Linked DNA regions of Homo sapiens. The protein of the gene in region 1 interacts with the protein of each later gene in a pairwise test. Each region holds a gene or a part of one and is shown on either strand. Other genes may lie near its edges. The genes, in order: RFC5, TSNAX, XAF1 and ARID5A.

Region 1 (7,330 bases):
AGATGTCTTGCCTGTCCCTGGGGGACCGTAGAGAAGCAAGTGTGGCAGTCGGTCTTCATTGATAAACTTCTGAACTGAGGATCAGGAAGGAAGAAGGGCACCATCAGTCTTTGGGAGCTGCCTCATTCACCCTGGGCTCCTGAGTTGGGCTGAAAGCTCTTCAACCCAATTCAATGTCCAAATCAGAGGCAGATACAACTTGATGTAGGGGCCTCATATCTACTTTCGTGGAACAACTGGAATTCACTCAATAGCGCAGCCAGTCAACAAGTATTTATTGAGTGCCTACTGTGTTACAGGCACCTTTCTGGGTGCTGGCAACATCTGTGAACTTAAATGATTCTCCGTAATGCTATTTTTACTCCACTGTGTTGCAATTTTATGCTCATGTTTGTGACTTACCCACTGGACTGTAGCAACCTGAAGAAAATGAATGAATGATCTTAAAGCCACATTCTACAAAGCGCAATCAGATTCTTTGAAGTTATTACTTAGGAGAGACAACATCACCAAGCAATTTATACAAGTCGCTCAAGCAGGACAAGAGCAACTGACACATGAATACTTACTGGTACTCAGAATGTCCTGATGAGAAATGAGATCATTCAGGGTCTGTGGCCGGTATTTTTCAACCCTGAAATACAATTTAGTATGTATTATGACATATATAAATGCAAGAATATTTTATGTGCAAAAGAATCCTTGCAGGTCAGGCACAGTGGCTCATGCCTGTAATCCCAGCACTTTGGGAGGCCAAGGTGGGTGGATCATTTGGGGTCAGGAGTTCAAGACCAACCAGCCCGGCCAACATGGCAAAACCCTGTCTCTATGGGTACCTCCTAGGGTCTTTGTAAGGATAGAACAACTAACAGGGTGTCTGCTAACCCGATAATATGCCATTCAATAAAAAATACCAAAAAATACAAAAATTAGCTGGGCATGGTGGCATACCCCTGTAGCCCCAGCTACCCCGAAGGCTGGGGTGGGAGAATTGCTGGAACCCGGGAGGCGGAGGTTGCAGTGAACCGAGATTGCACCACTGCACTCCAGCACTCCAGCCTGGGCGACAGAGTGAGACCTTGTCTTAAAAAAAAAAACAGAATCCTTTCATATCCTAATTTAAAAAGGAAGAATAAGAAAGCACTTTAAGTTTGAACAGACCAGTGGTTCCCAACCACAGGTGATTTTGTCTTCCTAGGAACATCTAGTGATATCTAGAAACATACTTAGTTGTCACAGGTGGGCAGAGGGTCCTATGGCACTCAGTGTGTAGTCTCCAGGAATGCTGTTAAACATGCTACAGTGCACAGGACAGCTCCCCTAAACCCACCCAGAGTATCTGGCCCAAAATGTCAATAGTGCTGAGGTTGAAAACTCTGTTCTAACTTCATCTTTCCAGCTGTTTGCCTATAATCTCAACCTGATGGGCACCTACTATTGCAAAGTGCATTTGAAACTGAACTCCTACCCAAATAGACTTCAACAGAAGAATGGATAGGTAAAATCTCTTCTGTCCATACAATGGAATATGATTCAGCCATAACAAGAAATTAACTACTGATACAAGCAGCAACATGCATGAACCTTGAAAACATGATCCTGAGTGAAAGAAACCAGACACAAAAGGCCACATAGTGTAGGATTCCACTTACATGAAATGTCCAGAATAGGCAAATCCATAGATAGAAAGCAGATTAGTGGTTGCCAGGGGCTAGAGGAAGGGGAGAATGGGGAGTAACTGTCAATGGGTAAAGGATTTCCATTTGGGGTGATGAAATTTTGGAACTAGATAGCGGGAAGACTCCACAACAGTACACTGCATTCTGAATGTACTTAATGCCACTGAATTGTACATTTTAAAATGGTTACAGGATGGGCTTGGTAGCTCGCCTCTAAAAGTCCCAGTTCTTCGGAGGCTGAGGCAGGAGAATGGCTTGAACCCCAATGTTTGAGGTTACACTGAGCTGTGATCACACCACTGCGCTCCAGCATGGGCGACAGAGCGAGACCCTGTCTCTAAAAAAAAAAAATACGTAAATACATAAAATAGTTACAACTGTCAATCTTCTGGGTTTTTTTTAACCACAATAAAGACAAATTGAACTAGTTACTAGACAATGACAACTTGCAGCTTTTCGAAGCCAAGCCAAATTGCTTCAAAGTCTTGGAAGCATTGCGAGAACATAGCTGTTTAAGTAGGATGGTTAAGAGTACAAGATCTGAATTCAGACTTCCTAGATTCACCTCCAAGCCAATTTTCTCCCTTGGACCATAGGGAAGTCATTACATCTTTCTAAAATGCAGTTTCCTCCTGTGTAAAATTTGAAGCGGTGCCTACCTCCTACGGTCTTTGTAAGGATCGAACATCTAACAGGGCGTCTGCTAATCTAATAATATGCCATTCAATAAAAGTTGACCAGGGAGCGTTATTACTAGTTTAAAATGTGACCAATAGTCGCATCGCAGGTTTTGAAGAGTGGGAAGAGGGCATTTTGGCATGGAGGCCATTGCAGGCGTCAGGAGACGCGGGATCGAACCCCTGTGCTGTCACCAGGTGCGAAAGCCGCCTTCTTCTTCGGCAAATGGAGCTGGGGGTGAAAGGGTGAGAACTGGCAAAAGCCCTAAACAGAACGGACGAGTCTGGGTAGCTGGGGGGTGTCGGGGGAAACCTCTGCAGGTCGGTCCCGGCTGCAGGCCTGGAGACGACGGGAAGAGGTCGGGTTGGGGTCCGGTCACCTGCCACCCCAGCCACCTCCTCCCCGCGCGGCCGCCTGGCCCCCTCTGCCCACCGCCGCCGCTCGGCCTCCTCCTACCAGGGCAGGTTCCTGATCTTGGTCGCCGCGGGCTGCTCCTGCTGCTTGAGTGCTGAGGTCTCCATGGCGGGGAGACGAAGGTGACCAGATCCGCTGAGATCGTCGCGTCACCCAAGCGCCTGCACAGTGACCAGCCGCGACCTGACCCTGAGACCCTGGCACTTACAGTTCGCGCGCAAAAGCAACTCTCGCGAGACGCGGCCACCAGTTTCCGACTTCCTCCCTCGGTCCCGCCCCCTCGCGTTGCTAGGGCGTCGGTTGCTAGGTTACCGGAGGCGCGGGCCGCCAGCGTCCCTCCAAGCTCCGCCCCTCCAGCCTGCTCTGAACTCTCAGATACCCAGGCGCTTCCAGAGCAGGGCAGCGGGAGAGGCAGGGCCCCCTGCAGCCCCAGTCATCATTACATATTAAGATCTCAAGGCCAAAGCCAATTCCTGCCATCGCCAAGCTTCAAACACTTAAATTCAAAGGAACAAAAGCTGCCGGGGCTCAAAAAAAAAAAAAAAAATCTAAGAAAAAAAACAACACCGAGTAAAACGGCTGGGTCTTGAATATAGATGCCTTTGCGAAAGAAGGCTTGAGATACCTCTCGGCCCCCAAGCTGGGAGGTGAATATTTGGAAATGAAAACAACCCCAAACAAACACAACTGCAACCTACCTATCTCCGGAATCCGTGCCCCTCGCCCAAAAAGTTTAGGGAACCAACCTCCAGAAAACGACTCCAGAGAAAAACAAACAGAAACTTCCAGTTGGGTTAATCTGTGTCGCTGGAAGGTCTAGTTCATGAACACAGAGGACAAGGTCCTTGTGATCTGAGATACTGAGGAGAATCGATATCAACATTTTAGGTTTTTTTCCTGAGGCGAGGAGAATTCTAGATCACTTTTATTTTCTTCTTTTTTGTTGGTCTGTATTTTCTTTTCTTTTTTTTGGTGTCTTGCTCTGTCACCCAGGCTGGAGTGCAGTGGCGCTATCTCGGCTCACTGCAACCTCTGCCTCCCGGGTTCAAGCGATTCTCTGCCTCAACCTCCGGAGAAGCTGGGATTACAGGCGCGCGCCACCACGCCTGGCTAATTTTTGTATTTTTAGTAGAGATGGGATTTTGCCATGTTGGATAGGCTGGTCTCGAATTCCTGACCTCAAGTGATCCACCCGCCTCAGCCTCCCAAAGTGCTGGGATTACAGGCGTGAGCCACTGCGCCTGGCCTGGTCTGTATTTTCCAGCAATGAGCATGCAAAGCATCCATATTGAAGTCTTTTCTTTTTTTTTTTCTTTTAACATGATGAGGAAGACAAAAATCCTGGAGGATTTTTGAGGCTGGCCTGGGGTCAGCAGTGTTCTGATTAGGAGGTAGCAATACTCTTTGCATAGGATTACATCACTGTCACCTGCTTCAGGAACACAGCAGAGGGACAGTGGCAAGTATGTGATGGCAGTTATGGCTTCACCCTAGCCCCTGCCTGGGGACCCCGAAGAAGGGGATCAGCTAGGGCTTGTGATGTGACAGTGCCCCTACTCTGCTTGCTCCCAGGAAACTTTAACACTGGGGGCTTAGATCATTAGCATGCCATTTTTAAACTTTTCTTTCTTTCTTTTAAGATAAAACTGGTTTTATTCATTTTTATCTCCAGGAAGGGAATCATAAATGATTAACAAGTTTTTCTTAAATACTAAGGCTAAAAATCAGCACATGTTTACAATTAATTTGCTGACACATGCTGAGGTGAGATATAGATGCCTCTGAATTAAAGTTATAGAAACACATTAAATATTTGTCATGTATTGCCAAATTCTGGGGTCTTTGAACACTCCTGGGGTTTTGTTCTGTTTCGTTTTTGAGAGAAGGTCTCACTATGTCACCCAGGCTGGAGTGCAGTGGCACAATCACGGCTCACTACACTCTCTAACTCCCCGGCTCAAGTGATCTGCCTGCCTTGGGCCTCTTAAAGTGCTGGGATTATTGGCATGAGCCACTACACCCAGCCCACTTCTGTTTTTTAAAAGGCATAAAATACAAGTGATGGGTATAAAAATAAAGGAAAACAGCTGATACAATTTTAGAAAACAACTGATACAATAACTAAGCAAAATTATGAAAGATTACTAAAGAAATAAATGGTGCTATACCCTCCTCACCAACGATCTAATTGTTGAGACGCAGGCTTCACACTGGGGTAAAATCCTAAAGGGTGGCTGATATGGTTTGGCTCTGTTTCTCCACTCAAATCTCATCTTGAATTGTAATCCCCAGGTGTCCAGGAAGAGAGGTGAGTGGATCATGGGAGCGGTTTCCCCCATGCAGTTCTTGTGATAGTCAGTGAGTTCTTACAAGATCTGATGGTTTGATAAAGAGCTCTTCCTACTTCACTCTTTCTTCTCTCTCCTGCCGCCTTGTGAAGAAGGTGCCTGTTTCCCCTTCGCCTTCCACCATGATTGTAAGTTTCCTGAGGCCTTCCCAGCCATGTAGAACTGTGAGTCAATTAAATCTCTTTCCTTTATAAATTACCCAGTCTTGGGTATTTCTTTATAGCAGTATGAAAATGGACTAATACAGTGGCTTTTGAAACTAAAGGAGAAGTCATCAAGAAAGCATTGCTTTGGGTGTCAGAAGACCTGCCTCGAATCAGTTCAACTCTAAAAATCTTTACACAGCCTATGGAGAGAAACCTAAGCAAGTCCCCAAATCCTCAAGTGTTCCAGGAGAATGAAAAGAATTATAAAGGCTAAAGAATTATTAGAATCAGTGCAGTGAACATGTAGACCAAAGCATTCCTACATGCCAGGAAAATGGTGCATTTGAATGTTTTTGCTTCTCATGAGAAAGGCAATTTAAGTTGCAAGGCAAAGGCAAACTTTTGAAGATGGCCACGTGGACTCTGGATCCTTCTCTCTTTGTTCATGATTTGTTCTCCCTTCAGTGGTTTTGCTCCTTGCCAAGCATTAGGTACCCTTGGGGTGGGATGCCACTTTTTCCACTTAGCCTTGGGCAGGTTTCTTCTCTCCTTATCCAATAATATTTACTCAAAGATTGTTGTAAGGATTAAATGAAAGAACAAATGTGCAGCATCCAATACATCGCCACCCTACTCTTCCCTTCCCTCCTAACACTCTCCACCCAAACTGTTCTGGTTTCAAATTTGTCCTCTGAAACAAAACCCAAAGGATTGGCTAGTGGAACTATGCCATAATCTGCCCTTATTGATGGTTAAGGCCATCCTTACCATCATGGTACGAGCCATTCATGGTAAGAACCATCCTTCTAAGGACCTTTGCATTAGAAGCATGATGCTGCCACCTCCTTGAGCTGGAAGATTCAAAAAAGAACAGAACAACTTATCATAAAACTCTGTGTGCATCTGCTGTTCCGTTAACTTGGAATGTAGAATTCTCCTGTGTTGACATTAGATTATATGTTGCAAAGTCATCTATTGTATGCCTTCCCAATGGAATGTAAGCTCATTGGAGGAGAACCTTGACTTACTCACCACTGTACTTCTGGGGCCTGAAACATTGCCTGGCTCAAAGGAAGTACTCAACTCATAACTGTTTGATGAATGAATGAATGAAAATGGCTCATATCCATTAGGCAGTTTCTATGGCCGAGACACTGTTCTAAGCACTTTACGTTTATTATGATCACTCAATTGTTACAAGAAGCCCAAGTTACTATCATTGGCCCCATTTTGCAGATATGTTAGGTACCTTGCTTAGGTTCTCACTTGTAAGGGGCAGAACTGGATCTTGCTAATATAGTCTGATTCTATATAGCCCATGCTGGGACAACAGCATCAACAGCAGCCCCTGGGAACTTGTTAGACATTCTAATTATTCTTCCCACCACCTCAAACCCAAGACATCTTAAACTTCACAGCTGGGGCCCAGCCATCTGTGTTGTGACAAGCCCTTGAGGGGATTCTGAATCGCTCAGGTTTGAGAGTCATATCACTATACTACCCTGCTTCTCAGTCCTCAAGCACTCCAGGAATTTGATTTCCTATTTATTTATTTATTTGAGAGAGGGATCTCACTCTGTCACCCAGGCTGGAGTACAGTGACACTATCGCAGCTCACTGCAACCTCCACCTCTAGGGCACAAGTGGTCCTCTCGCCTCAGCCTCCCTAGTAGCTGGGAATGTGGGCGCATGCCACAACGCCCGGCTAGTTTTTGTATTTTTTGTAGAGACAGGGTTTTGCCATGTTTCCCAGGCTGGTCTTGAACACCTGGGCTCAAATAATCCACCCACCTTTGCCTCCCAAAGTGGCTCATACTGGGATTACAAGCATGAACCACTGCACCCAGCCGCAGGACTTCACTTTCTAAGAAACACAATGGATGCTGTCTAAAAACAAAATTTTATCAAATTGAATTTAATGATCTCATTGTCTGTTATTTTCTGCTTTTTTTTTTTTTTTTTTTTTTTGAGATGGAGTTTCACTCTTGTTGCCCAGGCTGGAGTGCAGTTGGGCAATCTTGGCTCACTGCAACTTCTGCCTCCCAGGTTCAAGCGATTCTCCGGC
Region 2 (7,018 bases), on another chromosome or scaffold:
AAATTATATGTGATCTTCCCTACATTCTTTCTGTGACATATAGTATAAAACCAATCACAGCTACCCTTCTGGAGACATCTGGAATTTGTAACAACAATCCGTCTTCAGAAGCTGGACTAAAACACGTAAGCTGGGGAGTTGTAGGGTAGATACTATTCTACCTCTCGTGAAACAGGCAAAGGAATCAGGTCAAATGAATTATGAAGCAAACAAAGAAGCAAAGATGGAAGATGGAGATCCTCAGCTGCTCATAAGATAGTGCTGAATCTTGGGAAGTTCTAATTTTTCTGAAGTCTGCTATTTTCTCAGTTTACTAGTCAAAACTGTATGAATAATATGATTACAACTGTAATAGAAAATAGTGCATAAAATAAGAAATCTGCTAGTTGATAGTGGCTTTTTTTATAATTAATTTCCCCGTTCTGCTTAGACTAGTTTAAGTTAGTTTCTTTTACTTGCAATCACGAAGTCTATCAAATATACAAAGCCTGCGTAGAAAAATAAAATAGTAAAGTCCTAGAGAAAAAAATGTAAACAAAAGTCACAAAACTGAAACAGGAACTTTCGAAAAAGAATTAAGTAGTCAACAGTATCATATGCTACAAAAATGTAAAATAAGAAAACAGAGACTTAATAATATGAAGGTAACAAGGGCATTTCAATAATTGTGAGGCAGAAAGCCAGACTGCCATGAGTTCAAAAATGAACGAGAAAATAGGTTATGCAGATTTTAACATTTATCTAATATTAAAATTTTCACGCATATCATCCAAATAAAGTTTAATGTAACAGGCTCTAACAATCAAAATATATCATATATTTTCACAGACAATAGCTATATCTTAATGAATAATCTTAACACAAAATCCCTAGCTGCTCTGAATTTTTCTTTCTTAAGTCCACCCAACCCCTACAGACTTTTCCTTTTTTTTTTTTTTTTTTGAGACAGGGTCTGGCTTAGTCGCCCAGGCTAGAGTGCGGTGGTGGGATCTTGGCACACTGCAGCCTCTGCCTCCCAGGCTCAAGCAAGCCTCCCACCTCAGCCTCCCAAGTAGCCGGGATGATAGGCATGCACCACCAATCCCACCTAATTTTTGTATTTTTAGTAGAGACAGGGTTTCACCATGTTGCCCAGGCTGGTCTCGACCTCCTGAGCTCAAGTGATCTGCCCGCCTTGGCCTCCCAAAGTGCTGAGATTACAGGCATGCGCCACCACACCCAGCTGAGACCTATTTTTATTAAAATATTAACTCTTAAGTTGTACCTACTGCTGATGTCTTCTAATCCTCACAAAGTCACAGAATATTCTAATAGCTAGTATCAAACTGTAATAAATTCTAAAGATGCTTACTCACCTTGTAATCCTATGGAGGAGAAAAATTGTCCTTTTACTTTCAACAGTTATATCCCGACTAAGTTTCACAAGTCTCTCATATTTGTCATGCCTTGCATCAAGTTCCTGCTGAAATGCTAAAAACACATTATGATCATAAGCATGTATATTCTATACTCAAAGCCTACCAAACAATATTTTTAAGATGTACGTCACATATGCTGGGTGCGGTGGCTCACGCCTGTAATCTCAGCACTTTGGGAGGCCACGGTAGGTGGATCATGAGGTCAAGAGATCAAGACCATCCTGGCCTAGACGGTGAAACCCCGTCTCTACTAAAAATAAAACAATTAGCTGGGCATGGTGGCATGTGCCTGTAGTCCCAGCTACTCGGGAGGCTGAGGCAGAAGAATCGCTTGAACCCCGGAGGCAGAGGTTGCAGTGAGTCGAGATCAAGTCACTGCACTCCAGCCTGGTGACAGAGCGAGACTCCGTCTCAAAAAAAAGAAAAAAAAAAAAAGATGTCACAATGTAAATGCAGACAATGACTGCAGTCACCTGACTTCATTCAGAAGTAGAACACGATGGTAATGACACTAATTCTCAAAACACAAAAAGGTGATTATAAACAATCTCTAGCATCTACTGACTCTAGTGTTAATTGTCAAATATCCTAGGTATACATCACTAACAGCGCTAAAGTAGCTCAAGAGGTCCAGTTAATGTTCCCAGATTTCTAAACCTTTAAAACTAAATATCTAATAATTTCTGTAAATGCCAACAACGCACAGCAGCTCACAAATTCCTGAATCCTTGAAGATTTTCTAAAAATCTGTCAATTGTAGTAAGGTAGCACGTGTATATTAAAATGAACATGAAACAACTTCTTAAAAGTGAGTGCCACAGTATGTGTATTGTATCTTAATTTTTTAAAAAGCTACCAAATTATATCACATTTAAATACTAAGTAAAAATCTAGTTAGCCCGTTTATTTTAGAAAGTACATAATCTCAAATTTACTGTTTTACCATGTAGTAATATTGCATACATAAGCATAATATACTTCAGAAATATTATTTTCAGAAAGATTAGTAAAGAAGAAAAAAGGAAAAATGACTGAAAATAGACAATCACTACATGAGTTAGTTTTGTTATAACTAGAGAACTAGATCATAAAGTAGTTCTGCAATCAATAGAAAGCTGTGGCAGAGTTCATCTGAAAATGATCAGTAAGAAACATCAAAATTTAATTAGGCTGGAAAAAAGTCAGCTGAAAATTGAGTTAGTCAGGATGTTAGAAATCTAGGAAGAGAACTGAAAGTAGGAGAAAATGAAGAAGAGTTCCTGAGATCGATGAAAGGCTGAACGCAGGCTGTGGTGTCCAATTCTTACATACTATCTTCGAAGACTCAACACTTCCACATAGAATTAATCTTCAACCTGTCAAATTGTTACGGACACAAATCTCCCATAACATAATATTACATTAAGAAAAGATTTCCTCCCCACTTTCATACATCCTTTTCCTTACAGAACAAAGCATTTTCACAATTCTAACATGTCTTGCCTTCAGGAAAATTTTCATACATTTGTCTCCTTAAATGTCAGCACTTTGATTCCTTATAGTTACTGTTTTCTCCTTACCTGTATTCGATCAGCACTTAATGCTGAATGGAATACTTTTGTTTCTATCTATTACATATAACTGCCAATCTGCTTACCTTTTATGCTAACTTAAGTTTCATCTACTCTGCTTAATTTGTTTTAGTCTCGAATATTGAGACTCAAAGAATTTTACCTTGGTAAACTTTTTACGGAAAGCCTAACTTGAGACTGCCAAACAAAAACAGTGTTTTAAGTTTTTTTAAAGAACAAGCTTTCATTATACCACTATCAGATGTTTCAGCCTCAAAATTTTTTCCTTACTAAAATTCTTAACAGTTAACAAAATAATTACTTTGTATTATTGTTTAAAAGACTACATCTAAAGTTTTGTGAATATACTTAGAGCAAAAGGTATTAAATAAATTTAACTGAAGAAAGACTGTTTACCTTTTCCAGAACACAAAGCTATACTTACAGAACGTTGTATATACCTAACATTTAATAAAACAGTACAACAACTGGGAGTCTACATAAAGATTACATTACCTATGGGAAAAATAACCCGCAGAATCTAGAATCTTTTCATAGTAAATTCATGCCTCTAACACATTAAACTGCCTCATGTCCTGCCCTTAGCTCATGAGCCAGGCAGACTATGTCTTCTTGCTAGTCCTGATTCTCTAAGCTTGTACCTTTCTTGATGCCTCTATTTTTGCTACTGCCTCTCATCATCTCACATTTCACTTTCATCATTCAGATATCATTCTGCTCAAGGACTGCTTAAGAATCACGTGCCTCCCTCCTCCCTTACTCTCCATTCCTTACCACGCTTCACTGATTTACATTTATCCTTCGCTAGCTAAAATTATATTATTTATTTGTAAATGCACTTGTTTCACCACTGTATCAGAGCATAGATCCATGTCTAGCAGCAGGTGTTCACAAAACATTTCCTGACTGAACTGCTTGTTGAAATCATAAGCAGTATAACATACTGGATAAGAGCATCTGTTGTAGTTTGAGATAAACGTACTAAGGGTATGCAATCTCCTGGGAACTAAGAAATTGTTGAAAAGGAACTGCAAATCCATGTGCCCAATAAGCACTGCCCCTAACATGGAATAATGTCTTATTATTTTGCTGCTATTACTTTTTCAAATGTATGCTAATGCAGTTGGAATAAAGTATAAATTACTCATAATAGTAATATAAGTTAATTTTATAAAGCACTGTTGAATCTGTCTCATCAGCTTCATTACTGTCATCCAAATCTAAGTTACCTTATTACTTTATTACCTCTAAGTTACCTTACAAATACCTTACTGTACCGGAACTACAAAATAGTCTCTTGTCTGGTCTGCGTCTGCCCACCTTGCCTTTCTGTAGCTGCCAGAGTGACATTTCTAAAATATACTTTAGTTTTTAAGACTCTCTAATGACTCTGCATTACGTTTAACAAACTCCAAACTCTTTATGAAGCCTTACATTACTTGGTCCCTTGCAATACCCCCAAAAAGAACAAATCAACAAACCATCATTTATGTAGTATTCCAGCCAGGGATGCATAACCTGAATCTAACCATGAGAAAATATTAATCAAATCTAAGTTGAGGAATATTCTATTAAATAAGACCTATATTCTTCAATCAATATCATTGTCAAGAAAGACAAAACTGGGAAACTGTTCCAGATCACAGAAAACTAAAAAGAGACATTACAATGTAATATGTGATCCTGTTCTAGATTACTGGACTAGAGAGAAAAAAAGCTGGAAGGAACCTTATTGAGACAATTGTCAAAATATGCACTGTAGATTAAAGTATTATGTCAGTGTTAAATCTCCTGAAATTAGTTAACAATACTAGAGTTATACAACAGAATAGTCTTCTTCCTAGGAAATATATTCTGAAGTATTAACAAGTAAAGGGGTATGATGCATGCAACTTGTTCTTAAATGGTTCAGAATATATGGTTAGACATATAAATTTACATATATAGAGAGAATAATAAAGCAAAAGTGGCAAAATGTTAAAAATTGGTCAATCTAAGTCAAGTCTATACAGAAATTCTCTGTACTATTTTTCCAACTGCATTAAGTCTTCTAGTTTTTTAAATAAATTTGAGATTACCTCAAAATAAATTTAAAAAGAGACAGTATTTCTTTACTCAGATGATTCAACAACAGTAGAATATTGATCTGATAACTCCTTTTAATGCAATTAACTCCAACTTTGATAGCAAAGTGGTTGCTCGGACATTAAAGATCCTGGGTTTGAGTTGAACAAACTATACTATCTCATGAAATTTTGTCTGGAAGCTAGTGCTTCTCATTAAAGACTTTCCGGGCCGGGCGCGATGGCTCACGCCTATAATCCCAGCTCTTTGGGAGGCTGAGGTGGGTGGATCACTTGAGGTCAAGAGTTCAAAACCAGCCTAGCCAATATATAGTGAAACCCCATGTCTACTAAAAATACAAAAATTAGCCGGGCATGGTGGCACAGGCCTGTCGTCCCAGCTACCTGGGAGGCTGAGGCAGGAGAATTGCTTGAACCTGGGAGGCGGAGGCAGGAGAATTGCTTGAACCTGGGAGGCGGAGGTTGCAGTGAGCTGAGACTGCACCACTGCACGCCAGTCTGGGTGACAGAGTGAGAGTCCATCTCAAAAAAAAAAAAAAAAGACTTCCCATGAAATCCCTTTTAAAATCTCCTCTGACAGACCTGTAAGCTTTTATGTCAAACTTTTCCAAAACACTTGGTAAATCTTATGAAAGGAAAAAAAAGGGAAATGATTTTAATTTTCTTAGAATACAAATGGCTAGAAAGCAAAAACAGTCTGTACCTAAAAGTACTGTCTCTATATGTAAGAAAGCAATAATTATTCAGTTTATGAAAATGAAGAGAATAAAATCATCTTATTTCTAAATTACATGGAAATCAAAAAGGCTCAACTAAAATATTTTCCTCTTTAAATATAGGTATGTATTAACTGGGTTTTACTACTTAGTCTCACAATGGGAATACTGTACAAGTTGTAAAAAATGAACTTAGTAAACAAGAGATTATCACAAAATGACACGTAACAAAGAGTTACATAAAGTTTTAAAAATTACTTTAACCACATATATTAATAATATAAACACCTCCAAAAAAAGAAACTTGGACCTTTTTTTTCAAGTTTATTAAAATTTTTTTCCCTGTTGTCTTCCTGCTTTTCCACCTTTACTGGGGTATAACTGACAATTAAAAATTATAAGGCCAGGCATGATTGATTATGCCTGTAACCCCAGCACTTTGGGAGGCCAAGGGGGACAGATCACTTGAGCCCAGGAGTTCGAGACCAGCAGGGGCAACACAGTGAGACCCTGCCTCTACAAAAAAATCTAAAAACTAGCCACGTGTGGTGGCACATGCCTGTAGTCCCAGCTACTTGGGAGGTTGAGGTGGGAGGATCACTTGAGCCCAAGAGGCTACGCTTGCAGTGAGCCAAGATCACGCCACTGCACACTTCAGCCTGGGCCAGGGTGAGGCGTTGTCTCCAAAAAAAAAAAAAAACCAAAACTGTGTGTGTGTGTGTGTGTGTGTGTGTGTGTGTGTGTGTGTGTGTGTGTGTGTGTTATTACCACTATTAAGCTAATTAACGTATCCATCACCTCAGTTAGTTTTTTTTTTTTCCTTTTTGAGTCAGGGTCTCTGTTGCCCAGCCTGGAGTGCAGTGGCCCAATCACAGCTCACTGCAGCCTCAAACTTCTGAGTTGAAGCAGTCCTCCTGCCCCAGCCCCTCCGGAGTAGCCAGGACTATAAGCATACTACAGGCGCATGCTGTCATGCCCAGCTAATTGTGGTAAAAACATTTAAGATCTACTTACTTAGCAAATTTCAAGTATAAACTTCCTGAATTTATCAAGCTCTGTACCTTGAAATACCCTTAAACCACTTAACTCTCTTAATAACGCCTTTATTTCCCAAGTCTTTTCACTCCACAGCCCCGCAAGCTGCCTGGCCTATAGGAAACACCCAATCATGTATATTGCACGAACTGAAAAAACAAGAACTTAAACTATTAACTAAATTAGTAGCTGAC
Region 3 (7,958 bases), on another chromosome or scaffold:
CATCTCTCCTGCAGGGAGGACTGGAGCCATTCCCTGACTCCCAGACCCCTTCTTTCTTGCAGGGAGGATGGAACACTTGCCCCTCCCAGACCCCATCTCACCTGCAGGGAGGACTGGACCCTCGTCCCCCAACTCTCAGACCCCATCTCTCCTGCAGGGAGGACTGGACCCACTCTGTGACTCCCAGATCCCATCTCTCCTGCAGGGAAGATGGAACACTTGCCCCTCCCAGACCCCATCTCACCTGCAGGGAGGACTGAACACTCTCCTTGACTCCCAGACCCCATCTCACCTGCAGGGAGGACTAGACCCTCGTCCCCCAACTCTCAGACCCCATCTCTCCTGCAGGGAGGACTGGACCCACTCTGTGACTCCCAGACCCCATCTCTCCTGCAGGGAAGATGGAACACTTGCCCCTCCCAGACCCCATCTCACCTGCAGGGAGGACTGAACACTCGCCTTGACTCCCAGACCCCATCTCACCTGCAGAGAGGACTGAACACTCGCCTTGACTCTCAGACCCCATCTGTCCTGCAGAGAGGACTGAACACTCGCCTTGACTCCCAGACCCCATCTCACCTGCAGAGAGGACTGAACACTTGCCTTGACTCTCAGACCCCATCTCACCTGCAGAGAGGACTGAACACTCGCCTTGACTCTCAGACCCCATCTCTCCTGCAGAGAGGACTGAACACTTGCCTTGACTCCCAGACCCCATCTCACCTGCAGGGAGGACTAGACCCTCGTCCCCCAACTCTCAGACCCCATCTCACCTGCAGGGAGGACTGAACACTCACCTTGACTCTCAGACCCCATCCTCCCTGCCGCCTCCTCACCTGCTGGTGCTCAAGCTTGCAGTGCTCCTCCATGGTTTCCTTGGGGACAGGCTCCTCACACTCCGGACACAGGACCAGGAACCGCAGGCAGTAAGCCTCATGGAGGGTGAAGTTGGCAGAGACTACATGTCTTTTACTACAGGGTCAAGGTGTGGGGATAGAAAAATAGACTTATTTTCATATTATAAAACATGGAGCTGTATTTCATACCCAGGGCTAGATCTCCAGAGGCCTTAAGCACTGAACATGTGATGATGATGACACCACCTGCCCCACACTCCCTGTGTGGGTCCAAAAGTCAGAACAGTGAGGCAGCATCTAATAAGAATAAGGATGATCTACAGAGCTCTTACATTGCTGGGGCAGGGCATGGGAAGGAGCAGGAGGGAGGAATTACAAAGGGGCATGGGGAGCTTTTGGGGTGACAGGAAGCTTCATTATCTCAATTACGGGGATGGTGTTTCATGGATGTATATAACTTAGGCCAAAACTTATCAATTGCTACCCTTTAAAATGTGAGGTTTATTGTAGGTCAATTATACCTCTATAAGGCTGTTTTTAAAATGAAACATTTCATTTTAAATAATGTAAATAATTAAATTATTTCAATTTAAATAATTTGAGAGAAGTGCCAAATTCTCTTGAATCTTTTTTCTTGTTTTCTGGTGCCCCTGTTTGGTCCACAGTGTTAGGAACGCAGCCCTGCTAGGCTCACGCTTCCTGCCAGGGCCATGCCAACTTCCAAAATCTCCAAAGCGAGAGCTTCCCAAGTCTCCCCTGCCTTCAGGTTCACCTGCGCTAACTCACAGAGACTCCGAGGTTCTTCCTGGAGACCACAGTGAAGGAAGGGTTCTGAGCCTCCCACTTCCTGGGCAGGGCATTTTTCTCTAACCGTCCTTTTTGCCAAGAAGTGCCCCCTTTTGGCTGGGTGTGGTGGCTCATGCCTGTAATCCCAGCACTTTGGGAGGCCGAGGCGGGTGGATCACCTGAGGTCAGGAGTTAGAGATCAGCCTGGCCAACATGGTGAAACCTCATCTCTACTAAAACAATACAAAATTAGCCGGGCATGGCGGTGCACGCCTGTAATCCCAACTACTCGGGAGGCTGAGGCAGGAGAATCACTTGAACCCGAGAGATGAAGGTTGCAGTGAGCTGAAATCGCGCCATTGCACTCCAGGCACTCCAGCCTGGGCAAAAAGAAGCGAAACTCCATCTTAAAAAAAAAAAAAAAAGAAGAAGAAAGAAAGAAATGACTCCTTTCATTTCCATCAGCTCTTGCTTGTGGCAGCTTGGGAGAAGGGAAATGGGGTGGCTGTAGCCGTAAAGGCCCAGGGGACGAGAAGAGTTACATGCCCATGTTCCTGGCACAGGGGACGTGCTCCGAGAGGGACTGTCAAAGCCTCACTCCTCTTCTGCCCAGGCAGCGGGCACACAGGCAGCATCATCTTCCCTTCCTCTGCTCTCTCTCCTCTGCCTGACCTGGCCCCTTCTCCCCCTGCTCTTCCTGGGCTGGTTGAGAAACCAGAGTACTTGAAGGGTCTGGCTGGAGCAAAGCTCTCTGGGGAGGGTCCACTCAGGTCCCTGTCACAGGTAGGGAGCTTTGAGAATGGGGCTTTTTGATCGGTCAGATTCCGCGCCCCCCCTCCCGTTAGAGGTGTGGTCCCAGCCCCCTGCTCTGTCCCCCCTGCCCCGCCCCACGGCTCCCTTTCCAAGGAGGGTGAGAGTAGTCCTGGAGAATCTCCGTGGGACACTTTCTTTCACAGATGGGTGTGAAGGTCATAGTATCAGAACCCCAAATTAGGACCCAAGGTCTCACAAGTATGAGTAGCCCAGTTGGGACCACTGGCCGGGCTATTTGGCTTCAGAACTGTCCCAGAAAGCCTAACATTTGGGGGAAAGGGGCTGCAGTGAAGTGGAGGTAATGCTGCCCACCCCCACCCAGAGATTACCAAGTTTAAACCCTCCTACCCTTGGGGCCCACGGTCTCCAGCTGCTTGTCCTCCTAAGTGTTCTTATGCAGGAACCACTTTCTGCTCCCTTCAGAAACAGCCCTATGTCGTCTACGTCTCTCCCTCGCCAGCCCGGGTCTGCCGCTGGAGAAAGCACTTTCTTACCAGTTCCTGCACACCGAGAAGTCTCCTTCCATGTTCTGCTCTCTGCAGGCTTTCGGTTGAGTTTCGTTTCTTGCAGGCAAGGAAACAAAACTGAAAGTTTTCCGATGGCCCAGCCCACAGCTTCAGGGAGGGAGGAGATCTTCAGAATTCTCGGCTCAGGAGTTCCCCTTGATTCCTGAGGCTGGACCCTCCCAAGAAGCCCCTTTACAGCATGGCCAGCCCCTGCTGTCGCCCTTGGCCGTCATTCTTTGCTGCTGTCACAGCCGCATCTACCTCCCTGAGGCTGGCAGCCTGAGGCCAGGCCTCTCCTGGGCAGCACAGCAGCTTGTTCCCTCACCCTGGCTGGCTGGCTTCTCTCCGTCTGGGTCTCCATCCCTTTTCCAAACCATCCACCTCCCACCCTTCTCCCCCATCTCCGGCTCCCTTCTGGTCCTCCCCTGCAGGAAAGAGGGAACTTGCCATGTTGAGCTTGAATGCTGTTCCCTAAAAATGGCTCCTGGACTTCCAGGCGGTGAGGACCTTGCAAACAGCGTCCAGGGAGGCTCTGGGGATGCAGGGTGGTGTGAGCCCAGACCCAATCTGGTGTGTATCCTCCTGGGGGTCCTTAGAGTTTTTCCAGACCCTAGAAACAGCTGTGCTAACAGAAGAACTCTAAACAACATCTGGAGTGATGACAAGCAGGCCCAGAGAATTCCCGTGGCGTCTGCCAATGGGGTGGGTGCCGCCTCTCTGAGGAGGATAACAAGATTAAGGGAAATGTCCAGGCAGGGCTCCAGCCTCCAGGCAGGCTCTAAAATTCAGGCACTAAATGAGAAGCAGTGTGTGGTGGTACTGATGATCACAGTGATAGGAGGGAAGAATGAAAGACTGTTTCAACATTGTTCCTATGTTCCAGGCACCATTCTAAGCATTAGGTAGGCATTGTCTTCGTTTTAATCCCTCATGTAAGCATTATTAACTCCATTTTGCTATGGAAAACAGAGGCAGTGACAGAGTGAGACTCTGCCTCAAAAAAGAAAAATGAAATGAAAAAAGAGAAAATGGAGGCAGAGAGAGGCTAGGCCAATCGCTCAACATCAGAGCTGGGATTCACACCAGGTTGATATGACTCAGGTGTCTATGTACCTAACCAAGGCCCCATCCACCTCATTTGACAGCTAGTTGGGGTAGTGAGCACTTGGCTGAGAGTCAGAGACTGAGGTTTGCATCTTATCTTGTTCCCTTCCTCATCGGCTAGGCAAGCTCCTTAATCCTTCTGACCCTCACTACCCACTCCTGTCTGTCTCTGGGCAGTCTGTCAATATCAAGAATGAAAAACGAGTGGGCTTGGCTTGGTGGCTCATGCCTGTAATCCCAGCACTTTGGGAGGCCGAGGTGGGCGGATCACGAGGTCAGGAGTTCGAGACCAGCCCGACGAACATGGTGAAACCCCGTCTCTACTAAAAATACAAAAATTAGCTGGGTATGGTAGTGCTTGCCTATAATCCCAGCTACTCAGGAGGCTGAGGCAGGAGAATTGCTTGAACCCAGGAGGTGGAGGTTGCAGTGAGCCGAGATTGCACCACTGCACTCCAGCCTGGGCAACAGAACGAGACTCTGTCTCAAAAAAAAAAAAAAAAAAAAAGGGCTGTGCGCGGTGGCTCATGCCTGTAATCCCAGCCCTTTGAGAGGCCGAGGCGGGTTGATTATGAGGTCAGGAGATTGAGACCATCCTGGCCAACACAGTGAAACCCCGTCTCTGCTAAAAACTACAAAAAATTAGCCGGGCGAGGTGGCGGGTGCCTGTAGTCCCAGCTACTCGGGAGGCTAAGGCAGGAGAATGGCGTGAACCCAGGGTGGAGCCTGCAGTGAGCCGAGATCGCGCCACTGCACTCCAGCCTGGGCGACAGAGCGAGACTCTGTTACAAAAAAAAAAAAAAGAAAGAAAGACAGGAAGAAAGAAATGGAAAAGAAGGAAAAATGAAGAACTTTCTTTTCACATATTGTCTCCTGCTGAGATGGGATAGGGGTGGTGGCAGGGGTGTATAGATTGGACACCTTAGAGGAATGGAATGTGTGGCCAGGGGATAGGAGTGGAATTAGAAGTGACCATAAGTTGCTTCTCATCTACATCCTAATTTTCTTCCAAGATGTTTCCTCCTATAGACTGTCCCACCCACGCCAACCCTTCCCTTCCTCATCAAAATCCCAGCAGTTCTTCAGGACCAACTCCTATGCCAACACTGATCTAGAATCTACCTCCTTTGTCTCTGGCTTTGGTTAGTTGGCTGTGTGTCTATTGTCTCAACTCCTCCCCATCCAATCACAGGCATGGGCGATTTGAGAGCCAGCTCTTTCTGACCCACCACCCCTGCCTTCCTGGAGAGACCCGCGGGCTTTGTGCTTATTAGGCAGAGTGCAGTATTGAGCTTCGCAGTAGCAGGCAGTCAAATGCTGGCTGACCCGAATGGATGGGGTGTTTTGAGATAATTAAGCAGGGAGTTGGAAATCTCCCCCAACCCACACAACACCCCTGAGTCGGAGGGCTCTCAAAGTGGCAGCAATGGCCATTTTCTTTTCATTTCTCAAGATAACTTAGATTTCATAAAGAATATATGAATATACACTCTTTAAAAAAATGGAATGTTACAAATACAGCAATGTTTCTCTTTGACTGTCACGGCTGTTCCTGGGCCATCACTATTATTAATCAGAGAGTGTATGTAGGAACACTCTGGTTAGCACAAAAGCCTGTCCCCATTTCCACTACGACATCAATCGGTGCTGTGGGCTTGTATGATTTCATCATTCTGCCACCCGTCTTTGGCTGGTCGCCAACCCCAATCCCATTTAAAAAAAAAAAAACAAAAAACAGCTAGATGAGAAATGCTCTGTTGTGGGCTTAGAATTCCTTTCCAGGACACTGTGGCTACCCACTTGGCCGTTGTGGGGAGTTTCCGGCAGTCTCTTTGTGTCAGGCCTGTGGGTCAGGGGAGGGGGGTGAAGGTTGTCACAGGAAGCCAGTCTCTCAGACGTGAATTGGCCGGGCTGGCCATGTCACCTTTGCAGGAATCGGGGGGAAAGGGGAGCAGGAAGTCCTGGCTGGACTAGGACACAGGAATAATACACCCCTCCGTGCATTGTTTTGAAGATCAGAAGAGAAATTGTGTGAAAGCTGTACTTGTACAGCATGGAAGACAGGAAAGAATATTTAAAAAGGATTGTTTTAATAGTTTGGCTTTGAGAAGGGATCTTATTTAGGCTTTCTTCTTTTAAGGGATCACTATGCTAAGGAAGATGATGTAACGACAGAGATATTTCACTTCCCAGACAAAAATTATATGGTGCAATTGCACACACTTCTGTCGGTGGTGTCTTTAGAAGAATCCTGTGGTCAGAGTGGGCCTGAGTCCTGGGAGATGTGATCATATAGTCAGACTCCCCAAGCACAACGTGTTTGGATGGGAGTTCGTTTGTCAGACCACAGGAAATTGCATCAGATGACTAGTCTCTGGATGGCATTCAAGCCTGGGAATATCTGTGACTGTGTTTGGGGAAGACTCTAGGCCTGGCTGGGCAGCAAAGACGGGGAATGACCTGCTGGCTGCTGCTTAGTTGGCATATGAAGGGGAAGGAAGCTTGTCATTAAACTCATGGCAAGAAAGAGCAACTCCATGGCATTCTGTCTGTGTGGGGAGTGACCAGTACTTTTCTCTTCCTTTCTTTCTTTGAGAAGTCTCTTTTCACACATTCATAGTTTTGTTTTTGTTTTTTTCTTTTTCCTGGTTAAAACATCTCACCCACTTCCCCTGCCAACCCATTCCCGTCCAATCAGCAATCACAGTCCAAATGTCAAGGTCTCTTCCCTGATGTTTACAAGGGTGAGTGTTATGAGCCTTCTCCTCTTCCCAGATTACACATATTGGGTAAAGAGATGAAGTCTGTCTCTGTCACTCAGGCTGGAGTGCAGTGGTGATCATAGCTCACTGCAGCCTCGAACTCCCAGGTTCAAGCAATCCTCCTGCCTTCACACAGACTACAGGCACACACTACCATACCTAGCTAACTTTAAAAAAAATTGTAGAAATGGGGTCCCACTATGTTACCCAGGCTGGTCTTGAACTGGCCTCAAGTGGTCCTCCAACCTCGGTCTTCCAAGGTGCTGAGATTACAGAAATGTGCCGCTGCATCCAACCAATTTTTTAATAGCTTGATCATGGTATGGTCCCCTTGGTTGCTGCAAATCTCATGGAACTCAGGACAAATGACCATATATGTCAATTTTTTTGTTGTTTCTTTTTATGGTGGAGCGGGGGAGGTGAAAGAGAAAAAGTTTAGAGCTTCAGGGTCTTTTCACTCAGAATTTGGGGTGAACATACTCATATGGTTAAGTTGTGGTAATGAACAGCCACTCAGACTCTCATTTTAGGGAATAACTAGTGTTTTAATTTTTAAAAATGGAAACTTATGTTTCTTCCTACCCTGTCCTTGACATCACGTGGTCTTTCTTACAATGATTCACACTGGCTCCAAGATATTGTGTCCATCTCTTCTTCTTCTTCTTCTTCTTCTTCTTCTTTTTTTTTTTTTTTTTTTTTTTTTTTTTTTGAGAAGGAGTCTCGCTCTGTCGCCCGGGCTGGAGTGCAATGGTGCCATTTCGGCTCACTGCAACCTCCACCTCCCGGGTTCAAGCAATTCTCTGCCTCAGCCTCTTGAGTAGCTAGGATTACAGGCGTCCACCACCACATCAGGCTAATTTTTGTATTTTTAGTAGAAATGGGGTTTCACCATCTTGGCCAGGCTGGTCTTGAACTCCTGACCTCGTGATCCTTCTGCCTCAGCCCCCCAAAGTGCTAGGATTACAGGCATGAGCCACTGGGCCCGACCTGTCCATCTCTTCTTAATGTTCCATTTATAAGGTCATGCTGATACCTTAAAATTGGCCATAGTGAGAGTATTTAAACCGTGGAAATGGGCAAATGCTACAAATCGAGTATCTCCCCATCCCCAAGATCTGGCTGTTAAATAC
Region 4 (7,990 bases), on another chromosome or scaffold:
CCATTCCCTGTGTCCCCAGGCCGATCCCCAGCCCTTTACTCCAACGGTAGACCTGAAGCTGTCGAGATATCAACTCAACATCTTAGGAGGGAGGGGAGACACTGAAGAAAAAAAAAACAAAACAGCTGCCCCCAGGAGGGACAACGATTCTCCCAAGAGCAGGCAGTCCCGAACTTCTCCCAGCACCCTGAACAATGAGGTAAACGGAGGTGTGGCGGGCCGCTCCCCCTACCCCTGCTAGCTGGATGCCAGCCCCCACCGCAAGCCCAGGGCTCAGCTGGCAGGGCCCCGCATGCAGCCCCCGCCGGGGGCAGGGCTGAGTGGCAGAGCGCAACAGCCGTGCCCCCTTCCTGGCCGTGCTCCTGCCTGGGCCTCTGGAGCCTGCCTCTCCCCCTCTGATGTAAGCTGATATTTTAATTCTCTTACAAGGAATGGTGTTTAGAGAAATGACTTAACCAGATTACTCATCGTCTCTAATGACTTGGCCCGACTCCAGCGCTATTCCTAGACGTGACGCTTGAGGCTTCGATTCTTTCTCTCTTTCCTTTTGCTCCTTTTTTTTTTTTTTTAAATACCAAGAAATTACAGCCCTGCCTACGCGGAGGCCCAGCCCCTACACGCCCCCTTTGCATGGTATCCTGGGAGATGGAGTTCTGTCCTGGCCCCAGTCATGCCCCCATCCCCAGCCCAACTCCTCGCCCCTCTCCCGCCTCATCTTGGTGGGAGATGGGCAGGGTGTGGCTGGGCAGAGGTCATTTAATCTCTACATGCCTTGGTTTACTCTTCTGTCAAATGGAAGGGTCACCTGACATACAACAGAGAGTGGAAGTGTCAGTTGAGACCTTATTTTAAGTAAAAGTGTCACAGAGACCCAATGGTTTTAAGAGATTTCTTGTCCAGTGCATTTTGTGCTAAGCACCAGTCAAGACTCACACAGAGCTTTAGTTACCCTGACCCTGGGACTTACCAGGGCCTGGCCCTCACCCAGCCCAAACTTACTCCTTCCTGTCTGTGGACGAGTCTGTGGGCTTGTCCAGCACTTACTCTCTGGTTCTCAATTGTAATAAGGGGATAGATATAGATACAGCGCCCACTTCAGAGGGCTAGAGTGACATTGAAAGAAATACTCCATGCAAGATGGTGCAGTGTGTGTTAGGGTCCGCCCTGGTCCAAGGCATTTTCACCCCTTTCAGCACAAGGCCTTGGCTGAGTAGCTGGAGCGGGGACTGATTCTTAGTAGCCTGTGAGGTTGGCAAGGGCCACATCTTCTGCTCCACAAGGATACGGACTTCTTTCTGGTTGTGGCTACATCCCAGGTCTAGCTCAGTGCTGGCACATAGTAGGACCACACAACACATGTTGGATGAGTGGATGACTGAATAAGTGGAGCATTATCCTGCTTTCCACGGGAGGGGCCTGAGGCCCTGACAGGTTAAGTGTCCAAGGCCACACAGCTGGGCTGTGTCTGAGTGGGAATGAAACCCCCAATTTTCTCTCCTTGCCCTCCGTTCCCCTCCCCCAGGGGAATTCAGCTTCCACCCTTCAGGCTCAGGAAGTTCAGAACCATGGGTTTCTACCCTGCTGGGACACACTGGGGAGATGTGGGGTGGAGAGGGGAAACCAGCCCAGCCCTGGCCCAACACAGGAAATCTTTCCAGATTGGCTGGAGGTTGGAGGGAACCTAGAGCCAGGTGCAGATGCAGCTTCCAGTGTGGACAAAGCTTGGGAAGCTGGTTTACACGCGCCCTGGGGTACAGTGGCCAAAGCTCTTTCAGGCAGGAAGTTGGCCCTTGGTGATCTGGGACTCACAACCACCTCCCCACTCCTTCACCCCCAGCAGTTCCCCAAAGGCCAAAAGCTATTCTTGTCTTTTTCTAAAAGAGGCATTTGAACCATGAGCCAATTTTTTCCATTCCTGAGCTTGGGTATCATCTATTTCGGGCATTTGTTGTTTTCCATGAGTTGCAAATGCTGCTGTGAAGCTGGCCTTTCCTGGACAGCTAGCACGGGGAACGAGGAGTTAGGCAAGCAGGGCGGGGCCGCGTTAAAAATACTTCCCCACTTCATTTCTCCTTTGAAAACAAACCCCCAGGGGCCTTTGGCAACTGCTGAGCCTGGGAACTGAGCTTCCCAGGATAGAAGACTGGCTGTGCATTCTGTTTCCTGAGGGCACTGGATGGGTTTGCAGGTCCCAGAAGAAACAAAAGCACTGATTTTGCTGTGTGACTTTGGACAGTTTGCTTAACCTCTCTGGCCTGGTGACCTCCTTTCTAAAATGAGACCAGGTGGACAGATGATCTTGAATGGTCCCTATATCTCTGAGAGCTCCAGGATGAGAACCACCCCCAGGGCCAGATTTTCTTCCTAGAAATGGGCTAACAAGAGGTGCTAGGACATGGAGGTGGGAGTTAGAAAGCAGCTTTTAGCTCAGTCTCTGGGAACACTTTGTGAGCTCCTTAGCCCTGGAACTGTTCTAAGGGGGTCTATAATGTTCTCAGCAGGATTCATGTAATTGCAAAAAGATTAAACGCTATCAAGAGGAGATTAAATACACTGTGCTGGGCACACAGCCCAGCAGTTCCCAAAGAAGCAGATCTGTGTTCCAACAAGGAAAGTCTGTAAGATCTAGCGGTGATCGAAAAAGCAAGTTTCAGAATGGAGCAATGAGAATTGTATCGTTTCTTTAAACACACACATAAAACAAAGCTATCTATTTTTCTATACCATGGATACATATATAGTTTTGAAAATACACATAGGGAAAGTTCTGGAAGACTTCACCCAATCTGATGGGTCTTTACCTCTGGGGCAGGGAGGGAACTGGATTTGGTGTAGCATCAGAGAGGGCTGATTTACTTGCATGTTTTTACAGGACGAATGTGTTTATTTATAAGTGATGGTTTGTTTTTCTTATTATTAAGACACACAGAGAGACACCAGGACACTGAGGGGCTAGCTGACCCCCTCTGTAGGCACAGAGGCGTCCTGGCCTGGGATCCTGTGGTTGGAGGGTGCAGAGGAGGGTGGCTTTGGGCCGGAGTGGAGGTGTGTGAGATGGAGGCTTGAGCAATGGAAGTGTTTATGCTTTTAGCCAGATGAATGGAGATGTCTGTTTTCTGCAGGATTTACTGGCCATTGTAAATTACTTTCTATTGCAAACAGTTGCCTCAGGAAGCAATTAAATTTAGATCCTATCGTTCCCAGGCTGGCACAGGCAGGTGTTGACTTGCTGAGGCTTTGCACAACAGCCCTTGTCTGTCAGAATGTGCCCAGCTGCCCGGATGGCAGAATAACCCTAACTCTTGGTGGGATGAGCTGCTGTCTTATAAGATAGTGAGTTCCTTGTCATTAGGGGTATCCAACCCACAAGTGAGGGGTTGGCCTAGATTGTGACCCCGGGGGCTGCATCCAGAGCTCCATCCCCAACCTTGGGCATAGTGCCTGCCAATCAATGCTTCCAGAATGTACAAAGGTGCTTCCTGATGGCATCCCATCATAGTGTCTTCCACCACAGCCTTAGCTTTCCTGGAGGGGAAAGTGGCTTGTAAACTTGCCAAAGTGGGATGCATTGTTATAATTACCATTATGATTGTTCTGGGTGTCTATTACCAATTCTACAGGTGCTGGCTCTTACAAGCCAACCCATTATGAGGTAGACAGGGGATTTATCCTGCAGAGCCCACAGGGTCGTCTGCTCTAGACTGAGCCTGCAGACATCTTCCATCCCAGGGCCAAAGGGTAAGGGCCAGGGTTTCAGGTTCACCAAACTGCAGCCCTGGTCCCTTCGTTTAGTGTGAGGAGGGGCACCAGTATGATGAGTGGTTAGTAATGGGTGCAAAGCGGGTGGGGGGATGCCTGGGTATGAGGGCTCCTCTTCCTGGGTCTAGCTCTGGCTCCAACACCTACCAGCTGTGCTACTTGAGCTAATCTCTCAGACCTCAGTTTTACGCTATAAAATGAGGACAATGATGGTGTCAAGTGCATAGAGCTATTATGAGTATTAAAATTCATCAACAAAGATTTTTGTGTAGCTTCTATGTGCTAGGAACAGGGTTCCCATCCTAGCTAGCCACCTGCTGAGACTGAAACCCTGAGCCTCCATTTCTTCCTCTTTGGCCTGCACAGGTCCAGGTTGCTGCTATGGCTGGCTGGGCACCTCCTCCTGCCTCCATTCGCCCTAGGCCTCATTCCCACCTCCCACAGCCTGAACTCATGCCCCTTCTTTGGACTACTCAGCTTGTAGCTGCCACACTCTGTCTGCATTATGTGTGTGGACATTGACTATTACTGGCAGGCCTGGCCACAGAGCCTAGGCCAAGGATTTACTAGTTTGGTCCTTGTCTAGCTCACACTAACCACCTCTCCTTTTTTTTTTTTTTTTTTTTTTTTTTTTTTTTTTTGAGGCAGGGTCTCCGTCTATTGCCCAGGATCCAGGATAGAGTGCAGTGGTGTGATCAAAACACACTGCAGCCTCGACCTTCTGGGCTCAAGTGATCCTCCCGCCTCCGCCTCCCAAAGCAGGGATTCCAGGCGTGAGCCGCCGCTCCCGGCCTCACCTGGCCTTCTTTGTTGGGCTAGGTGGGGACTGGGAAATGCACAGGGCCACTTTCAAATCAAAGTCAGAAGCACTTTGCTCGCTCCACAGAGTCCTCAGTGCTCTGCTGAAAGCAAGGAGGCTTTTTCCAAGGCTCTAGTTTTGCCTCCAGGGAAACTGAGGCACAAGGCAGCAATGATTACTGAGGGTCCTGCCTCCGCTCCTCTAGGTGAGGAGCCTATTCCAGGGGCTCCAGTCTGAAAGCCTAGAGGCGAGGGGCGCGCACTACAATTCCCAGAGGTCCCCGGACTCAAGGGCGGTCCCCGCCCCCCGCCTTCTCCGCGCGACGAAGCCGGGCTTACCAATGGGAGCCCGGAGTGGGGCGAGCAGGGGCGGGACGGGGCGGGACTGCGGGGAGGTGGCCGGCGGGCCGCGCCGCGAGCCAGTATCTCAGAGAGCGCGGGGTCCGGACAGCCGCGCGCTGAGGGTCTCGGGGCGGGCGCCGCGGGACCTCTCCGGGCCATGGGTAAGCGGCTCTGCGGCGCGGCCCGGACAGGGGCTCGGCGGCCCTGCAGGGAGGTTCAAGGTGCCGGCGCCGGGTCCCCTCCAGCCCTCGTGGCAGTCGGTGCGCTGTGTGGGGCGGAGAGGGGCCCGGGGTGGGTTTCGGGGCGCGGGCCAAGGGGAGCGAGCCCGGCCCGCGGCTTCAGCGCTCCCCGGCCGGCGCGGAAGGGGTGAGGCTGGGCGTCCGCGCGAGCTTCGAGAAAAGGAAAGACAAAAAGTTTTGGCGGCCAGGGGCTTCCCGGGCGTTTATCTCGAAACTCTTTTCGCCGTCTCTTGCCTGAAATATGCCGAGCCCGGTACGGCTCTGTCGTCCCACTTCCTGCTGCGGTTTCCACCTCGAGCTGGGCTCAGCTAATTTGTTGTGACAGCTGTCGGCAGCCGCCCCTCCGCCCCGTGACATCCCGCAGGTTTCAGAACCGCGGCGCCGCCGGGCACAGACTCCGGGTCCAGAGCGCGCGGCCCTTTCCTCTGCGGCCGCCGTTTCCTGAAAGGGGCTGCGCGGGTGTGAAGAACTTGCTCAATGCGCTTTGTAGGATCCACTGTTCCTCTTTCGGCCGCGGGCTGCGCCGATGGTCCGGGGAGCCCGGCTTCTCGCCCCCTGCCCCTTCCTTCTCTTCCCTTTTCTCTTTTCCTCTCCTGTCTCTCCGCCCACCCGCCGCAGCCCCACAGGAGAGGGGTCGCTTCCCTGGTTGCTCTCCTCTCCTGTCCCTTGTGTGTCCCCTTGTCTTCCCTCGGTCTGCAGAAGGGACGGGGTGGCGGCTGGGGAGCGTCAGGGGAAGAGGGCAAGAGCGTGGGCTACGAGCTTGCAGGCGATGCCCGGCTTCGCGCTCGGCGGGAGCTGCGGGCCAACCCGGGCCCGCGCTCCGTCCCTCCGCGGTGTCTAGGGGTCGCCCGGGCTGGGGTCGCGTCACCCTCCGCCCAGCGCCGGCGTGGTGGGGCTTGCGCGGTGCAGGACCCCCGAGGGCCCAGGGGGTCCCAAGGCGCTGCGGGTCCAGTGTCCCTTTGTTTGCAGAGTCTTGGGCCAGTAAGGAGTGCTCCGCGGGCCCCAGGGGAGGACAACAGGTGCCTCTTGCCCCACCCGGGCTCCTCTGGTGGGAGCCCACACGCACGGTGGCGTCACTGCGCCTACAGGCAACGCTAGAGCACAGGAGGGGTGGGAGGTCGGGGCTCGAGGGCTTCACCCCGCAGCAGAGCTCAGAGCCCAATCCAGGCCTTAGGGACCCGCCTGGGGCCTAGAACTTGGTGTGGCAGAGGTAGAAAGGGCCTCCGATAATCTGCTTCTACAGTTGAGAGACGTCAACTGGCACCTCTGAGCCTCTGCCCCGTAGGTGAAATGGGAACACACGAAACCATCTGAGGAGCTCTCACTGTCCGTCACCACCAAATGTGGCCCAGACTCCGTGGGGAGGGACAGTCCCATCCTGGAACTGGGGCTTTTAGGACATCCCAGAGCCCGGTAAGAGGGACAGGGAGAATGGGGCTTGGAAGTTGGTAGCCTCACATTCAGTGTCCCCCGCACCTCCTTCCCTTTCTGTACCCTCTGGTGGCTCTTGTGGCCTCAGCTGCCCCCAGACCCTGTCTCTCTCGCCCTCCCCCAAGCTGAGGTACTGAGGTTGGGCTGTGGCTTGAGCTGCACCTGTGCCCTGTTAGGGAGTGGGGGTCCCAGGCCCATCGCGTTTCTTCTCACTGCTGGCTCCAGCTCAACACTTGGCAGGCCCCCCTCCCCAAACTGCTGGAGCAAGCTCGCGTAGACTCGGCCTGGCCGCCGCTCCCGGGCTGCCGAGTGGACCGGCCGTTTCGCCGCTTCAAAGGCTGTCTTTGTTTTGCTCCAGCTCAAGCTTAGAGAAACTTAAGCCAACAACCTCAGCCGAGGGGGCGGGGCGGCGTCTGCTGGTTGTTATTGAGGCTGCTGTTACCATTATTGTGGTAATTGACGCAGTGTTCCCAGTCGGTGACTTTTCATGAAAGGAAGTGTCACTTCCTTCCCATCACACCCAGGGTGAGTGGGGCGGGCAGCAGAAAGATGGGGAGGGAGAGAAGGAAAGGGGTGTGTGCCTCCAGCAGACCCTTAAACTTGAGAGCTGTGTGGCCTTGTACTAGTCACTGCCCCTCTCTGGGCAACAGGGGTCTGTAAGTCCATTGCGCTCATCCTGCACCCAGGAGGCTGATGTTTCCGGAGCACCTGCTGGGCAGCGAGGTGCCTTGGGGAGGGAGCAGGACAGGCAGGCCTCTGATCTTCTCACTGAGCCTGGCTGTGGTTTGTGGGGGAAGCCTCCTTTCTCTTCTCACTTTTTTCTGCTGAGAACATTGGGCACATTGAGTCTAGCACGCCCATCTTGTAGATGGGGAAAGGGAGATACAGAACCAGTGACCAACTTGGTAAGAGGTGCAGCCATGCAGTGCTGGAACCCCTTGCCCCATCTGTCCTCTTGGCCCACTTTCATCTGCTTCCAGCTTGATGTCTGGCAGGGCAGGGGCCCACTGACTTCCCCGCATCCACCCACTGCCTGGCCCCATAGCTACCTTCTAGTCCTGGCTAAGCCCCGTGAGACATCTTAAGTTTGTCTTCAGTGACTCTCAACCACCGCCCGACTGCCTTCACCTTCCTGCCTTTGCATACCTGCCTTTGCTTCGCCAGGTTGGTTGGGCCCTGGCCAGAGCTGGCCCCCTACTCTCTCAGGTAACAGGTAGCAGTTTTTTAAATGGAATCTCAGTAGGTATCAACAGGTCTTTCCTCCTTCCTCAAGATTATGGAGATAACACCCCTTATTCAAAGATGGTGGGTCCTCTGGGCCCTCCCCGACCCAGGCCAGGGAAGTTGATTCATAGAGTGTGGGGGCCATGCCCCTTCCCGGCCCTCCCCCTCTCCCCGCTGCTGCCCAGCTCTCTGACCAG

Evidence for each region.
Region 2: the proteins of RFC5 (region 1) and TSNAX interact in binary tests that used the Homo sapiens proteins (3 or more experiments, as listed by UniProt).
Region 3: the proteins of RFC5 (region 1) and XAF1 interact in binary tests that used the Homo sapiens proteins (3 or more experiments, as listed by UniProt).
Region 4: the proteins of RFC5 (region 1) and ARID5A interact in binary tests that used the Homo sapiens proteins (3 or more experiments, as listed by UniProt).

What each region holds. Positions count from the first base shown.
Region 1 is NC_000012.12:118,012,376-118,019,705, reverse strand, and holds the start of RFC5 (replication factor C subunit 5), read right to left. Parts: upstream 3,004-7,330; 5' UTR 2,879-3,003; coding exon 2,814-2,878; intron 2,017-2,813; exon of another isoform or gene 1,655-2,016; coding exon of another isoform or gene 1,653-1,654; intron 635-1,652; coding exon 570-634; intron 75-569; coding exon 1-74. UniProt on the Homo sapiens protein: Subunit of the replication factor C (RFC) complex which acts during elongation of primed DNA templates by DNA polymerases delta and epsilon, and is necessary for ATP-dependent loading of proliferating cell nuclear antigen (PCNA) onto primed DNA.
Region 2 is NC_000001.11:231,531,665-231,538,682, reverse strand, and holds part of TSNAX (translin-associated protein X), read right to left. Parts: intron 1,471-7,018; coding exon 1,356-1,470; intron 1-1,355.
Region 3 is NC_000017.11:6,751,103-6,759,060, reverse strand, and holds the start of XAF1 (XIAP-associated factor 1), read right to left. Parts: upstream 3,016-7,958; 5' UTR 2,983-3,015; coding exon 2,951-2,982; intron 973-2,950; coding exon 837-972; exon of another isoform or gene 719-836; coding exon of another isoform or gene 436-718; exon of another isoform or gene 293-435; coding exon of another isoform or gene 102-292; intron 1-101. UniProt on the Homo sapiens protein: Seems to function as a negative regulator of members of the IAP (inhibitor of apoptosis protein) family. Inhibits anti-caspase activity of BIRC4. Induces cleavage and inactivation of BIRC4 independent of caspase activation.
Region 4 is NC_000002.12:96,531,771-96,539,760, forward strand, and holds the start of ARID5A (AT-rich interactive domain-containing protein 5A), read left to right. Parts: upstream 1-4,981; 5' UTR 4,982-5,056; coding exon 5,057-5,060; exon of another isoform or gene 5,061-7,990. UniProt on the Homo sapiens protein: DNA-binding protein that may regulate transcription and act as a repressor by binding to AT-rich stretches in the promoter region of target genes.